4 linked regions of the Homo sapiens genome follow. The protein of the gene in region 1 interacts with the protein of each later gene in a pairwise test. Each region holds a gene or a part of one and is shown in the gene's direction. Other genes may lie near its edges.

Region 1 (3,500 bases):
GCCTTGGCTGGGGAGTATGGAGCAGTCACTTACAGGTAAGTGCCCTCTGCCTGCCAGACTGACTGGGACTTCTTTGAGAGCAACTTCATCCATCACTTATGTCCTCAGCACCTGGTACAGTGTCTGATATGACAGTAGATAATAAAGGCTTAATGTTGGTGATGGATTTTCAGTTAGTGGATAATTTCACTTGGGAAAGATTGCAGGTAATCTGACCCCAAATGATGATGCACTTGCGTAATTCACATTGGAGCAGGGGAGAGGAGGCCCCCCAAAAATGCCCAGTTCACAGTGTTGCATGATTGACTGGGGTTCTCAGATTCCTCCTAAGAAATGCACGGGTAGAGCGCCACCTATCGGAATAAACTGAACTCTGTCCCCACCAGAGGGAACACTCATTTCACTAATAGTTATGTGCACTGATGGTGCCAAGAGATTTTAAAAAAAACAAAAAGTGGTCTGTTGGCCCAGAGGTCTCAGTGTGGCAGCAGAGAGCCCAGGGTGTAAGTGCTAGAATCGAGTATGCTTGGGCTGAGGGAGCCCAGGGGAGGCGTGTGCTGCAGAGGAGGGGCTGCTCAGAAAGCCTTCTCAAAGGGACAGTTTGTGCCACCTTGTGAAGGATGAATTGGCATTACTTGGGCAGAGGAGTAGGGAAGTGGCATTCCCAGCAGAGGGAAGAGCAAGTGAACAGCAGCTACGCTTTCAGCTCAGAAAAGCCCATGTCCACCACCAGCCTCACCACAGGTGGTGAGGACTGACGCGCAGGCTATGACAGAGGAGATACTTGTGCCCACCTCAATATTTACAGCCTGGCTCATGCCTGTAATCCCAGCACTTTGGGAGGCTGAGGTAGGCAGATCACTTGAGCCCAGGAGTTCAAGAGCAGCCTGGGCAACATGGTGAAACCCCGCCTTTACAAAAAATAAATTTTAGCCGGGCATGGGGGCAAATGCCTGTGATCCCAGCTACTCAGGAGGCTGAGGCGGGAGGATCATTTGAGTCCAGGGAGGTTGAGGCTGCAGTGAGCCAAGATCATGCCACTGCACTCCAGCCTGGGCGACCCTGGAGTGAGACCCTGTCTCTCATTTGTAGACCCACCAAGAAGAGGTGGGTCTGCTGCATTTTTGGTGATTTACTGGAGGGCTGGTTTATAGATCTTCATTCTGTCAGAAGCAGGGAGGCAAAAGTATGAAATTAAGGGAGTGGTTGTGGAAAACCCCTTCCATGGTTTGGAGGTTTCCAATGTGACTGGGAGTCCCTGCAGGCCGGTGGAGGTAGCTGCTCAAGTGGCTGCTGCTTCTCCTGAGGCCTTTTTGGAGAAAGTGGACACCTGAATGTCAGCTGCTTTGGGGCTAACATGATCCTTGATGCCTCCTTTTGTGGCATGAGTGGCAGCCGGCCGACGTGGTGCTGTCCTGCTGCCGGAGCACCATGATGTCTGCTGCTGAGACCTCCCATCTGACATAGTCCCTGTCCCTCTTCAGGGACTTTGTTCCTTTAGCAGTTCTCACTGTCTGGCCTCAAATAACACGTCTTTTTCTGTTGGTTCCTTTTTGCTCCAGCTGTACTGTAAACACTCTTTGTTTACTGCATACCCTCAGTAAATACCTGTTGAATGACCGGATAGATGTGGCAGCAGGTACATTACCTCAACTTCTGGTACACCTTGGGAGAAGCTTTCCCAAGAACACCCTGGGTTCATTTCCTCCTAGCCTCTGCTCTCCTGGGGCCCAGAGATTGAAGGCGCTTAACCTGCTCATCTCACCACGTCTCCCGCCTTATCTCTCACCCTTCTCATCAGCACCCTACACTCCACCACGCTGGCTTCATAGCTCCTTCCCCGAATGTGCCAGGCTTCTCTGTGACCATCTCTTGAGCGTACAGCTGGCTATACCTGGGCTGCCCTCCTCCCACATTTCAGGTCTCAGTTCAGACACCCGCAACCCCACCATGTATCTCCCCAGTACAGCCATACTCCTCTGCCCCTGAGCTCCCATGACACCTGCTGGGGCCCTGACAGCCTGGGGCTGTGATCATGACTTGCCCAGGGGCCCGAGGGTGGAAACGATGCTCTGGCTCCTTTGATTGCATAGAACAGGGGCCACTCAGGTTGACTCAAGAGCAGGAGCAGCGCGTGGGCACACGTGGACTGCAGCCACACAGCCTGGGGACCATGCAGTGCTGGGAGAGGCCGGTGCCCTGCTCTCTCCCCAGCACCGTCTAGGCTCTGCCCCATTCGCTTCCCTCCACCATTGTTATGCAGCAAAGGGGGCTCTAGCCTGATGTGCTAGAAGCAGTCACACTGGATTTTTGAGAAAAGCCAAGCTTTCTATTGTGAGTCGACTCATATGGAGACAGGAGTTGAATTCAACCCTGTCTCCCTGTGCTAGCTTTAAGGCGGTAATTTTATTAGAGGAGGTTTAAGGGGTGGATTCTAAGATTAGCAGGTGATTGATGGAAGGAAAGGAGAAGTCTGGACAGTCCTTGGACATGCACAGTTATCTGTTCATGCCAACTCATGGGTCCCCTGTGCAGATTTGGGAGGAGTGAGTATGAAACGTGCAGTGGCAATTCAGGCTTTGACATCAGCAAACTTGTTCTGTGCAAGCTGCAATTGGCCTTATTGGTTCCAACCAATTTCAGCCAGTTCTTTTATCTCATAAGCAGAGGGAGTTTCAGCCTTTCAGAAAGTGGTTTCTGCAAACTCAAATTTTCTTTTATTTTTCTGAGACAGGGTCTTACTCTGTTGCCCAGGCTGGAGAGCAGTGGCGTGATCTTGGCTCACTGCAGCCTCAACCTCCCTGGGCTCAAGTGATCCTCCCACCTCAGCCTCCCAAGTAGCTGGGTCTGCAGGCACATGCCACCATGCCCAGCTAATTTTTGTAGTTTTTGTAGAGACAGAGTTTCTCCATGTTGCCCGGGCTGGCCTCGAACTCCTGGGCTCAAGCAATTGCCTGCCTCAGCCTCCCAAATTGCTGGGATTACAGGAGTGAGCCACGGGAATTTCCATCAGTTACTGATTCTTGAACTTGTAGGAACGTGGTTCCACTGTCCACATGCTGTTCTTTCCTCGCATCTCCTGTTCCTGCTTCCCTTTGGCCTGCTCACCTCTGGCTCCTCATGGCCCCAGTGAAGTATCGTGGCTTCCTCTCCACTGCAGACTGGCAGATTTCTTCACTCACACTCCCAAAAAGAGAATCTACTTCCCTCCCTTCCCTTCGTCCAACCATCTGGGTCTCGAGTGTCACTGTAGGTTCACTGCCGTTGGGGCAGGTGACTCCTTGGGCCAGTCAGCTTTGGCTGAAGGGCAGGGCTGGCACACAGCTGGCAGAGCCACCCCATCCAAAATCCAGCCACTGTGCCTCAGCAGGGCTGTGGTTTGGGGGTCGGGGGGCGCTCCCCACAGGATAAGGAGCAGCCAGGGCAGGCAGATGACACTACCACTACTAGCTGCATCTGGATCTATTCACTTATTCAACAAAGGTTTATTACACCCATAT
Region 2 (3,500 bases), on another chromosome or scaffold:
CTGTCACCTGGGCTGGAGTGCAGTGGAGTAATCCCGGCTCACTGCAACCGCCACTTCCCAGATTCAAGTGATTCTCCTGCCTCAGCCTCCCGAGTAGCTGGGATTACAGGCGCCCACCACCACACCTGGCTAATTTTTGTATTTTTAATAGAGATGGGGTTTCACTATGTTAGCCAGGCTGGTCTTGAACTCCTGACCTCAAGTGATCCACCCGCCTCAGCTTCCCAAAGTGCTGGGATTACAGGCATGAGCCACTGCGCCTGGCCCATTCTACCATTTATTAACCATTGAATATTTAGGTTATCTCCCTGGCGTTTACTGTTATCATTTAGAGCAAACATTTTCATGCATACAGCTTTCCTCATTTTGAATAGTGCTTTAGGATTTATTCCAGGAATCCTACCTTTTGTCTTAATGGGAGTTTCCATCTGGTTAAATAGTAGAGGATTGTATTTTCATACTAATGAAAGCCTGGCATTAAAGGGTAAATTAAAATTACGACTATATTTGGTGTTCATCTTTTAGTGGCATGGTAGAAAGAACCCCATTACATTTTTTACAAATATCTAATGACCCCAGAAGGAAGTCATTAGAAAACTCAGTGGTTAAGTAACTTCCCAGAATCTGTGCAGTGTGGAGCCAGCGTTCACATGCCGGGCACGGGGTATCTGAGAAGGAATGGGAGAAGGTAAGGCCAGAAAATAGGTTTGAGTCTAACTGGAAAGACCTGGGTGCCCTGCTTAGGAGTTACAGGCAATGGAGCAAAATGGAAGGTTTTGAGAAAATGGGCGATGGTCAGAACCAGGGTTAGGGAAGACTATTCTGTACCTGAGTAGGATAAATTTTAGGATACAGGTTGTGGGAAGAAGGGGAGAGTGCAAGACCCAGTAGGATGTTGATGTAGTAGTAGCTGTGAAGCAGAACATGAGAACGTAAACAAATGTTTTTAAAAAAGAGGAGAAAGAGGCAACAAGTCCGAGAAACATTTCAGCACCGTAACTTAAGGATTTAACAGTTGATACAAGTAGCATGCTTTATGAAATGGAACTCTAAGGAAGACACTATATGAAAGGAAGTGGAACTAAAGATCCAGTCAGCGAGGGTTAATCCCGTAGCCTTCTCCTGGGTAAATGTATGTCTTCTCTTTGTAAAGTTACAAAAATGTTTGATGTGCACAATGGAGGGAATACCAGACCTGCAGTTGAGAGACATGGGTTCTAACGATATCTCTGCCTTGTGTTATACACAGCTAGATGTCCCTGAGTAAGTCAGTAAATGCTCTGGGCCTTTGTCTTCTCAGCCTTGTGACATACAGGGAACTAGCTAACCTCCTAGGACCCTTCTAGCTCTGATATGCCATCTCTCAAGGGTGTTGATGGATAGTTTAGGGGGGTTTGGAATTAGAAGGTGTGATACGTTTCCTAAAAAGACAATTTGCAGCCTATATTTAATTATTCAGTAACTGACTTTTCCCCCTATTCTAGAATAAGCAAGTCACATTCTTAGACCAAAAGGACCCCACAGAAGGGACACAGAAGACTCCCTGGGGGGAAAAAAAATGACTCTAGCCAGCCAGCTGAATTAGCCCAGTGATTGGATGGGTGACAGATGTGGCTGCCAGATGGCCCCAGAGCTGTGGGGAGAGGGATACTATCTCTTTTAGGGTCAGCCCACTGAGAATAAAGCAATGTTTTGATGACAGTGGGGGGGGAAAGAATCAGAGAAATTGTGTTCTTGGGAACAAACTGCTATTTACTTCTAAGCAAGTACCATGTGTGGACTTCCCTCATTCTGCAGTTACTATATATCTGCTGTTCATTCATTTATCTAGCTACTCAACAAATATTTGAGTATCTACTATTTGCCCAGGCCTGGCCTAGGTAAGAAAACGCAGGGATTACTGGGGAGAACAGGCAAAAGGTAAGCACAGGCTGAGTTAAAATGAGGGAAGCACCCCAATGTTAAGGAGATGAGGTGCTGTCATGGAGGGTGAAGAGGAGACCTGTGCAGGGCCTGGCTGTGAAGATAATATTCAAGCTGCAAAGTGAAAGACAAGACGCAGCCACTCTTGCAAAGAGCCAGAAGTAGTGTATTCTTGGTAGCAGTTGTGGAGGTAACAGGACAGAGAAGATCTTAGTATATCTGAGGAACTGAAAAAAGGCAGTGTAACGGGACAGTGGAGATCATGGGACAGGATGAGGGCGGGTGGGGAGGGAGGCAGGGGTCGATCAAGAAGGAAGCATGTGGGGAGCTGTGGAAGGGCTCTGAGAGGTGCGTGTTTGTGATGGAGACAGAGATACCCACTCTCCATTTTCCAAAGTTAGTTAGCTCTGGCTGCTCTGGAGAGCACAGAACAGAGCAAGTCTGTAGCCAGTGAGGAGGCGTCCCAACAGCCCAAGAGAAGATGATGGTGGTTTAGACCAGGATCACGGCAGAGATGAAAAGTAGATGGATGTGGACTTATTCTGGAGGTAAAACCTGTGGGACTTTTGATGGATAAGCGTAGACGGAAAAGGACAGATCAAAGGATGACTTCAGTTGGAGCTGAACACCTGGGCAGATGGTGTTTTTTAAAAAAAAGAAGAGTTCATGTTTTGGACATGTTAAGCATGAGAGGCCTGTGAAACATCCCAAATGAGTTGTCAAGCAGTCAACGGATGATACAGGTCTGGAGTGCAAAGAAAACGTCTGGTCTGGGTGTATGAATCGGGGACTCATAGCACTGAACAGCAGTGGATGAGGTCCTCTATGGGAGAAAGGAGAGGGAGGGGAAAGCAGAGCCTGCAACAGAATCCTAAAGAACTCCAGCATTTAGGGTAGAAAAGGAGCCTGCCAAAGACATTGAGAAGGAACATCAAGAAAGGTAGAAGGAAACTCTGTAAAATGTGGCACCAGCCGAAACCGAGAGGAGAGTTCAAGGAGAGATCAGCTGTGTTAGATGCTTTAAGTCAATTATGATGACTGCGAAGTGTCCATTAGAGCTGATGACATGGAGATCCTGTACAGGTGAAACTTAACATCATGTCACTCCTATGTTCAGAGTCTTTGGTGGCTCCCTATACTGTTGTGTCAAGTTCAGACCCCACCTGACGGTATAAGGGCCCTCTACAACCTGGCCTCACCCTATCTTGATTGTTATCTATCTCCCCCCTTTGACTCTCTGGGGAGCCAAAATCTTAGACTCACTTTCTCCCCTTGAAGCTTCTACTCATAGCTTTCTTCAGTGCTTACCACTTATTATATCACAGCCCTCTCTTAAAGACAGGATCAAACAGATGTGACTGTCCCATTTAGGGTTATTGAAGCAGTATGACATCCTGGAGATGCACTCTCCTGGCAGTGAGGAGACCCCTGTTTATAATCTGGCTCGCCCACCAGGTAACTGAGTGCCTTCAAAACTGCTCAATTTCTCCAGAGGCCTCAGTTTCCTTTTCTGTTAACAATGGAGGTCAGACCAAGTGGTCTCCAAGGGCTTGCCTTGCAGTGACCATCTACAAGCC
Region 3 (3,500 bases), on another chromosome or scaffold:
GGATCGCTTGAGCCCAGGAGTTCAAGGCTGGCCTGGACAACATAGTGAGACTCCATCTCTAAAAGGAATTTTAGGCTGGGTGCAGTGGCTCATGCTTGTAATCCCAGCACTTTGGGAGGCCGAGGCTGGCAGACCACCTGAGGTCAGGAGTTTGAGACCAGCCTGGACAACATGGTGAAACCTTGTGTCTACTGAAAATACAAAATTAGCCAGGCGTGGTGGCGCATGCCTGTAATCCCAGCTACTCGAGAGGCTGAGGCAGCAGAATCACTTGAACCCAGGAGGCGGAGATTGCAGTGAGCTGAGGTCGTGCCACTGCACTCCAGGCTGAGCAACAAGAGTAAAACTCCGTCTCAAAAAAAAAAAAATTAACTGGGCACGGTGGCACGTGCCTGTAATCCCAGCTACTCGGGTGGCTGAGGCAGGAGACTTGCTGGAACCCTGCAGGCAGAGATCATGCCACTGCACTCCAGCCTGGGTGACAGAGCAAGATTCCAGCTCAAAAAAAAAAAAAAATTAAAAAAATTAGCCAGGCGTGTGGAACATGCCTGTGGTTCTGGCTACTCAGGAGGCTGAGGTGGGAGGATCTCTTGAGCCCAGGAATTCAAGGTTTCAGTGAGTTATGATTGCATCTCTGCACTCCAGCCTGAGTGATAGAGTAAGACCCTGTCTCAAAAACAAAAAACAATTCATGAAACAGCATATGTTCCTTTTTTGTGTTGTTTTGGAAATCAGTACAAAAGGCCAGTGGCCTCTGTATTGAACAGTGCAGGACCAAAGTCTCCCCAGCTTGTCCCACAGAAGGCGGCCTTCCTCTCTGTGAACTCCAGATAATAATGGTAATAATATAGAAAATAGACTGATTTCGGTGGCTCACGCCTGTAATCCCAGCACTTTGGGAGGCCGAGGCGGGCGGATCACCAGAGGTCAGGAGCTCGAGACCAGCCTGGCAAACATGGTGAAACCCCGTCTCTACTAAAAATACAAAAAATTAGCTGGGCGTGGTTGCGGGTACCTGTAATCCCAGTTACTTGGGAGGCTGAGGCAGGAGAATAGCTTGAACCTGGGAGGCAGAGGTTGCAGTGAGCCAAGATTGCATCATTGCACTCCAGCCTGGGCAACAAAAGCAAAACTCCAACTCAAAAAAAAAAAAAAAAAGAGAGAGAGAGAGAATAATAGTAATAATAACAGCAAACATTTTGGGAGCACTTACCAGGTAGCAGCTGTCATGCTTATGTTGCAAGTTCTTTCTGTTCTCACAGCAGCCTTGGAAGTGGAGTTTACTCTCCCCTTGAGGAAGCTGAAGGTCAGAAAGGGAGAGACGATTGCCTGAGGTCACACAGCTGATGGACAGTAGAGCTGGGTTATGAACTCGAATGCATCTGAGCATACAGGTCCTTCTTTGTTACTTGTGACACCTTGATCCACCCAAAGGTGCCTTAATCGGGGGATTCCAGGCATTGGGAAGGGGCTGTGGGAGATGGGAGGAGGTCTGGCCTGAGATCAAGGTCATCAGACGCCTCCTAGCTCCTCGGGGGGAACATCCCTAATCCCTGAATAGCCCAAGGTCTGCCACAGCTGAAAAAAAAAAAAAAAAAAAAAAAAGATGGGTTTGGGGTGTTTGTTCATTTAGAAAACAGGCCGGGCACAGTGGCTCACACCTGTAATCCCAGCACTTTGGGAGGCTGAGGCAGGCGGATCACTTGAGGACAGGGGTTTGAGACCAGCCTGGCCAACATGGTGAAACCCTGTCTCTACTAAAAAAAAAAAAAAAAAGTTGGGCATGGTGGCGGGCGCCTGTAATCCCCGCTACTCAGGAGGCTGAGGCAAGAGAATCACCTGAACCCAGGAGGTTGAGGCTGCAGTAAGCCAAGGTCACGCCATTGCACTCAGCCTGGGAGACAGAGCGAGACTCTGTCTCAACAAAAAAAAAAAAAAAAAGGAAAAAAGAGGCCGGGCACGGTGGCTCACACCTATAATCCCAGCACTTTGGGAGGCCGAGGTGGGCGGATCACGAGGTCAGGAGATCGAGACCATCCTGGCTAACACAGTGAAACCCCATCTCTACTAAAATATACAAAAAATTAGCCGGGCGTGGTGGCTGGCGCCTGTGGTCCCAGCTACTTGGGAGGCTGAGGCAGGAGAATGGCGTGAATCCGGGAGGCGGAGCTTGCAGTAAGTTGAGATCGCGCCACTGCACTCCAGCCGGGGGGACAGAGCGAGACTCTGTCTCAAAAAAAAAAAAAAGGAAAAAAGAAAAATGAAAACTACCAGCCTTCTCCATGAATGATCCCATGGCCCCAGGAGTCTAACTGGTACGTGGGGCGGCTGGACTGTTTCATTTCCTTTCTGTGTGTGCCCTTCCAGGGATGCTGAGAACTTGCTGGAGTCACAGCCACTGGGATCCTTTCTCATCAGGGTCAGTCACAGCCATGTGGGCTACACACTCTCCTACAAGTAAGGCCTGGGCCGGGATCCAGGGCAGGGGCAGGTGGGCTCTTGGGTTTCCTTGGAGGGGGCAAGGGGTGCTTCATGTCATAGCTTCTCAGAAAGCAGCAGTAACTGAGGCTGTGGATCTGAGAACGGGAGCTGCTAGCCAAGCAATGAGTGAAGCTTTTGTCCGTAGTGGCATGTTTTATCTGAGGCCAGCCTTTGTACTCCTGTGTTATAAATGGGGGAAACTGAGGCACAGCGAGGTTAGTAACCTGCTGGGTGTTGCATGGCCAGTGAGTGAAGAAGCCTGCATGGGAACCTGGGGTAGTCTGGCTGTAGCAGTGACGCTGCCGGCCCAAGGGCTGGGGACTTGGGGCAGGGATGAGGGGGAGTAGGATGTCCCAGCCCCCGCAGTGTCTCCGCAGAGCCCAAAGCAGCTGCTGCCATTTCATGGTGAAGCTCTTGGATGATGGGACTTTCATGATCCCCGGGGAGAAGGTGGCCCACACCTCGCTGGACGCCCTGGTCACCTTCCACCAGCAGAAGCCAATTGAGCCGCGCAGGGAGCTGCTGACACAGCCCTGCAGGCAGGTGAGGGCGGGGACCCACAAGGTTCACAGCCATTTCCTTGGGGCCAAGCCCCCCAGACCCCTTTGTTTCCCACGCCCCCATCAGCTCCTCTTGATTCTGTCACTCTCATGGTCCTTGGCCCCTCCGGCCCCACCCCAGTAGTCCCTCTGCCCCCCACAGCGGTCTCCGTTGTGGTTCCTGCTTCCCCATGGCTCCGCCCTCCAGGCCCATGTCAACAGGCTGATTTTTTATAAGGGTTCATGTGCCAGGTATAATCTTGGCTCATCTGAAGGAATGACATCTTTCCTTAGAAGGCTCGGTGGGCGTGGCCTGGCTCCCAATACGCTTTCCTTAGAAGGCTCAGTGGGTGTGGCCTGGCTCCCAATAAACTGCTGTGGGTGGAGCATCTTTCCTTAGAAGGCTCAGTGGGTGTGGCCTGGCTCCCAATAAACTGCTGTGGGTGGAGCATCTTTCCTTAGAAGCTCGGTGGGCGTGGC
Region 4 (3,500 bases), on another chromosome or scaffold:
TCTGCCAGGATAAGGCCTGATTCCTTCACTCAGGGAGATCATAATCAAGAGAGAATGAAAATAGGATTCAAGTAAAACATGGCAAGCTCTGTGAAAAAGGCCTAAGAGCTTCATGAAAATAGTAATCCCCAATAGCACCTTTGTACTCCACGTGTACTCCCAGTGTCTTGCTTGGTGCCTGGTGCATGATAGAGACTTCATAGATATTTGGAGAGAGGTGAAGCTAGAGAGAGGAAAAGTGGAAGAAGAGAGAAAAATATGAATAAAAAAAGGACTGAGCCTGTCTTCCCACAGCGGGGAAAAATGGTGTGTTCTTTATCAATATTGGCCTTCTGGTCACAAGTCCACCTACCCACAGTGAGTTTCCATTTGGGCACTTCAAATACAAGTTTTCATGCCTTGAACCAAAATCCATTTCTTAGTAGATGAGACTTATAGATGTGCTCTCAGTCAAAACTCTGAGGGAGATCACAGAAAATAGCAAGGTTTCCCTGTTTTGGTTATCAGCGGAAATGTCGTGCGTGCCGTGGACCATTCTACATGGATGCTGTAAGTTGCAGTCTGGTCACCATGGACTGTGGAAATCTGCAATCCATGCCTAGAAGAGTCAGCAAGTTAGAACACTTGAAAAACTGTTATTTAAATTTAAGCTTTTTTTCTTTCCAATTTTGGTCACTCAGAATGTGATTTCATATCCAAAAATGAAATAGAGGAGTAGCAAATTATCTGAATAATTCATGCCAGAATTACCCAAACACTTTCGTTCTTTGAATACTGTTAATTTGGGACTAGGTAATTGAAGGGTTCAGGGAGGATTGAATTATCCTGATATTTTTCAGATAAATGCCTCAAGTTAATATTTTACTTGGTACAGACTTAGCTCTAATCATAAGGGGTTTTGTCCTGCAGAAAGAGTGCTCATTTTAGTGTTTTTGACCACAGCACCTCTTATATTAAAGCAGAAATGCCCATCAAAGTCTAAACTTTATTATCTTTAGACTATGACCAAAACCTTCTTTTAAGTGTTCTATTTTAATTTATTGTTAAAGTGATATAGATACTTATAAGAGTAATACTAGCATTATAATAAAGACTGGATGTGCCCTGTGCCAAACCCACCCCCTTCCCTAGCCTCACTCTTTTGAATCGACCATTCACTTTTCCTTCAGGTGTTTTCTCTAGTATTCTCTATTTCTAAGTAACATGCTCATACAGATTTTCAGTTTCAAATAGTATCCCTGTTATCTACTGGCATTCTACTATAGAAAATCAAAATGATAGCACTTATAAACACTTATAAAGCACGTACAGTATCCCAGAGAATATTTCAGGTGCTTTACACATATGTACTATTTTAATCTTCTCAATGACACTATGTGGCAGATACTTTTTTTTTTTTTTAAGAAACAGGGTCTTGCTCAGTCACCTAGGCTGCAGTGCAGTCGTGTGATCTTGGCTCACAGCATCCTCTAACTTCTGGGCTCAAGAGATCCTCCCACTTCAGCCTCCTGAGCAGCTAGAACTACCAGCATGTGCCACCCCACCCAGCCAAGCAGATACTATTATTATCCTAATTTTGCGTATTGGAAACTGAGACATAGAATGATTACATATCTTGCCCAAGATTACATAGTAATGATGGCAATAAATTGTGGAGCCAGGATTTGAACTCAGTCTGGCTCCTAAATCCGTATTTTTAACAATGATCCAAATGTGTCTAGCTCCATTTTAGCATCCAACAATCCAACACTGCACCTGTTCTCTCTTGTTCTGTCTCTCTCTTTCCCTCTCTTTCCTATCTCTCACACACGCACCTACACACATGCACACATTCCTGCTTCCTCTTCCTCCCACCCCCATGAATATAGTTGTATCACTCTCAAGAGCTAAATCAGTATTCAGTGTTAATTATCATTATGGTTATTTAAATATTAATCACAAGGACTCATTATGTTGTCCTATGTTATATTTTCTTTCTCATACAATTTTATGTTTGCCATGGAAATAATTTTGGTTTCTTAATTTACAATGCGTTTCTAAACACTCTGCTGAAGACCAAACCATCTTTTAGCACCCTCAGACAGCTCAGGTGTTTGTCAGTTACTCTCTGTTCATGGAGACCCCTCCTCCTGCCCCCATCTTCACTGCTGCCTCCTGGCACTGCCACACAGCTATCATCCTGGAGTCTCTCATGCACATCATCCTGGGAATTCCTTGTGCTTCTCTCCTGTTTAGACTCTGTTTCCTGAACCTGTCTTTTCCTTTCTATTTTGTTTATTCTCATGCTTCAGTCATATATCTTCCCACCCAAGGAAGGTAAACAGTTGCTAATTTTTTTGAGACCCTGACAGTCTGAAAATATCTTCAATTTACCAGATTGAGTGTTTGACTCAGTATAGGATTCTAGGTGGGAAATTATTCTCTTTCAGAATCTTGAACACATCATTTCATTTTCTTTTGCTTCTAATGTGTCTGTTGAGAAGCCCTATTCTTCTCTGCCAATGGCTTGGAAGATTTTATGATTTCTTCTTTATCTCCAATATTTTGATTTTTTGATGCTTTGCCATGATGTGGGTCTGTTTTCATTCCTGGGCTGTGGGCACTCAGCAAGCTTTTTCAATCTGGAACCCTCAGTACTTCAGTTCTGGGAAATGTTTTGTACAATTTCTTTGAAAATTTTCTCTTCTCCAATTTCTCTGTTCCCTCTTTTGAAAATCCTCTTATTCTAATGTTAGACACACTGGACTGATCCTCAGATTTTCTAATGATTCTTCTCTATTTTTCCATACTTTGACTTTTTCTAGTTTGAATCTCTAATATATCTACTGAAACTTGCCTTTCAATCTTGCTATTGAATTTTTTATTTCTGTTATAATAATATTAATTTCCAACATCACTTTACTGGTCTTCTCTTTGTTCCTTTTTTATAGCTGTTTTTTTTTTTTTTTCTTTTTCTTTTTGAGACAGAGTCTTGCTCTGTCACCCAGGCTGGAATGCAATGGTGTGATCTTGGCTCACTGCAACCTCTGCCTCCTGGGTTCAAGTGATTCTTATGCCTCAGCCTCCATAACTGGGACTACAGCCACCACACCTGGCTAATTTTTGTATTTTTGGTAGAGACAGGGTTTCGCCATGTTGGCCAAGCTGGTCTCGAACTCCTGACCTCAACTGATCTACCTGCCTCAGCCTCCCAAAATGTTGGGATTACAGGCATGAGCCACCATGCCCGGCTTTTATAGAGTTTTATGTGCAAATCTTATTTAAATTTTTGCAGTCAAATACAAATGCGTATCTTTATCTTCCTTTTTACAATAAAGGTGTCGCACTGTACACACAGTTTTGTTTCTTGCTTTTTTTTATCTGACACGTTGGAGGACTTTATGTGTTAGTATATAGAGAGCTTCTTCATTCTTTAACATAGTTGCTATCATCTTCAGAAGTACACGGTGCTTCTAATTCCTGCATCTGGTAGTGCAAATCAGTTAGTTGGATTCCCTGAC

What was found. The genes of interacting proteins can lie anywhere in the genome.
Region 2: the proteins of PINK1 (region 1) and APPL2 interact in a two-hybrid assay, tested with the Homo sapiens proteins (one large-scale study listed by BioGRID and IntAct).
Region 3: the proteins of PINK1 (region 1) and HSH2D interact in a two-hybrid assay, tested with the Homo sapiens proteins (one large-scale study listed by BioGRID and IntAct).
Region 4: the proteins of PINK1 (region 1) and SNCAIP interact in a two-hybrid assay, tested with the Homo sapiens proteins (one study listed by BioGRID).

The regions. Positions count from the first base shown.
Region 1 is NC_000001.11:20,639,958-20,643,457, forward strand, and holds part of PINK1 (serine/threonine-protein kinase PINK1, mitochondrial precursor), read left to right. Parts: coding exon 1-35; intron 36-2,699; exon of another isoform or gene 2,700-3,161; intron 3,162-3,500. UniProt on the Homo sapiens protein: Serine/threonine-protein kinase which acts as a sensor of mitochondrial damage and protects against mitochondrial dysfunction during cellular stress.
Region 2 is NC_000012.12:105,191,175-105,194,674, reverse strand, and holds part of APPL2 (DCC-interacting protein 13-beta), read left to right. Parts: intron 1-3,500. UniProt on the Homo sapiens protein: Multifunctional adapter protein that binds to various membrane receptors, nuclear factors and signaling proteins to regulate many processes, such as cell proliferation, immune response, endosomal trafficking and cell metabolism.
Region 3 is NC_000019.10:16,150,185-16,153,684, forward strand, and holds part of HSH2D (hematopoietic SH2 domain-containing protein), read left to right. Parts: intron 1-1,262; exon of another isoform or gene 1,263-1,394; intron 1,395-2,367; coding exon 2,368-2,457; exon of another isoform or gene 2,458-2,858; coding exon 2,859-3,024; intron 3,025-3,500. UniProt on the Homo sapiens protein: May be a modulator of the apoptotic response through its ability to affect mitochondrial stability. Adapter protein involved in tyrosine kinase and CD28 signaling. Seems to affect CD28-mediated activation of the RE/AP element of the interleukin-2 promoter.
Region 4 is NC_000005.10:122,458,737-122,462,236, forward strand, and holds part of SNCAIP (synphilin-1), read left to right. Parts: exon of another isoform or gene 1-598; intron 599-3,500. UniProt on the Homo sapiens protein: Isoform 2 inhibits the ubiquitin ligase activity of SIAH1 and inhibits proteasomal degradation of target proteins. Isoform 2 inhibits autoubiquitination and proteasomal degradation of SIAH1, and thereby increases cellular levels of SIAH.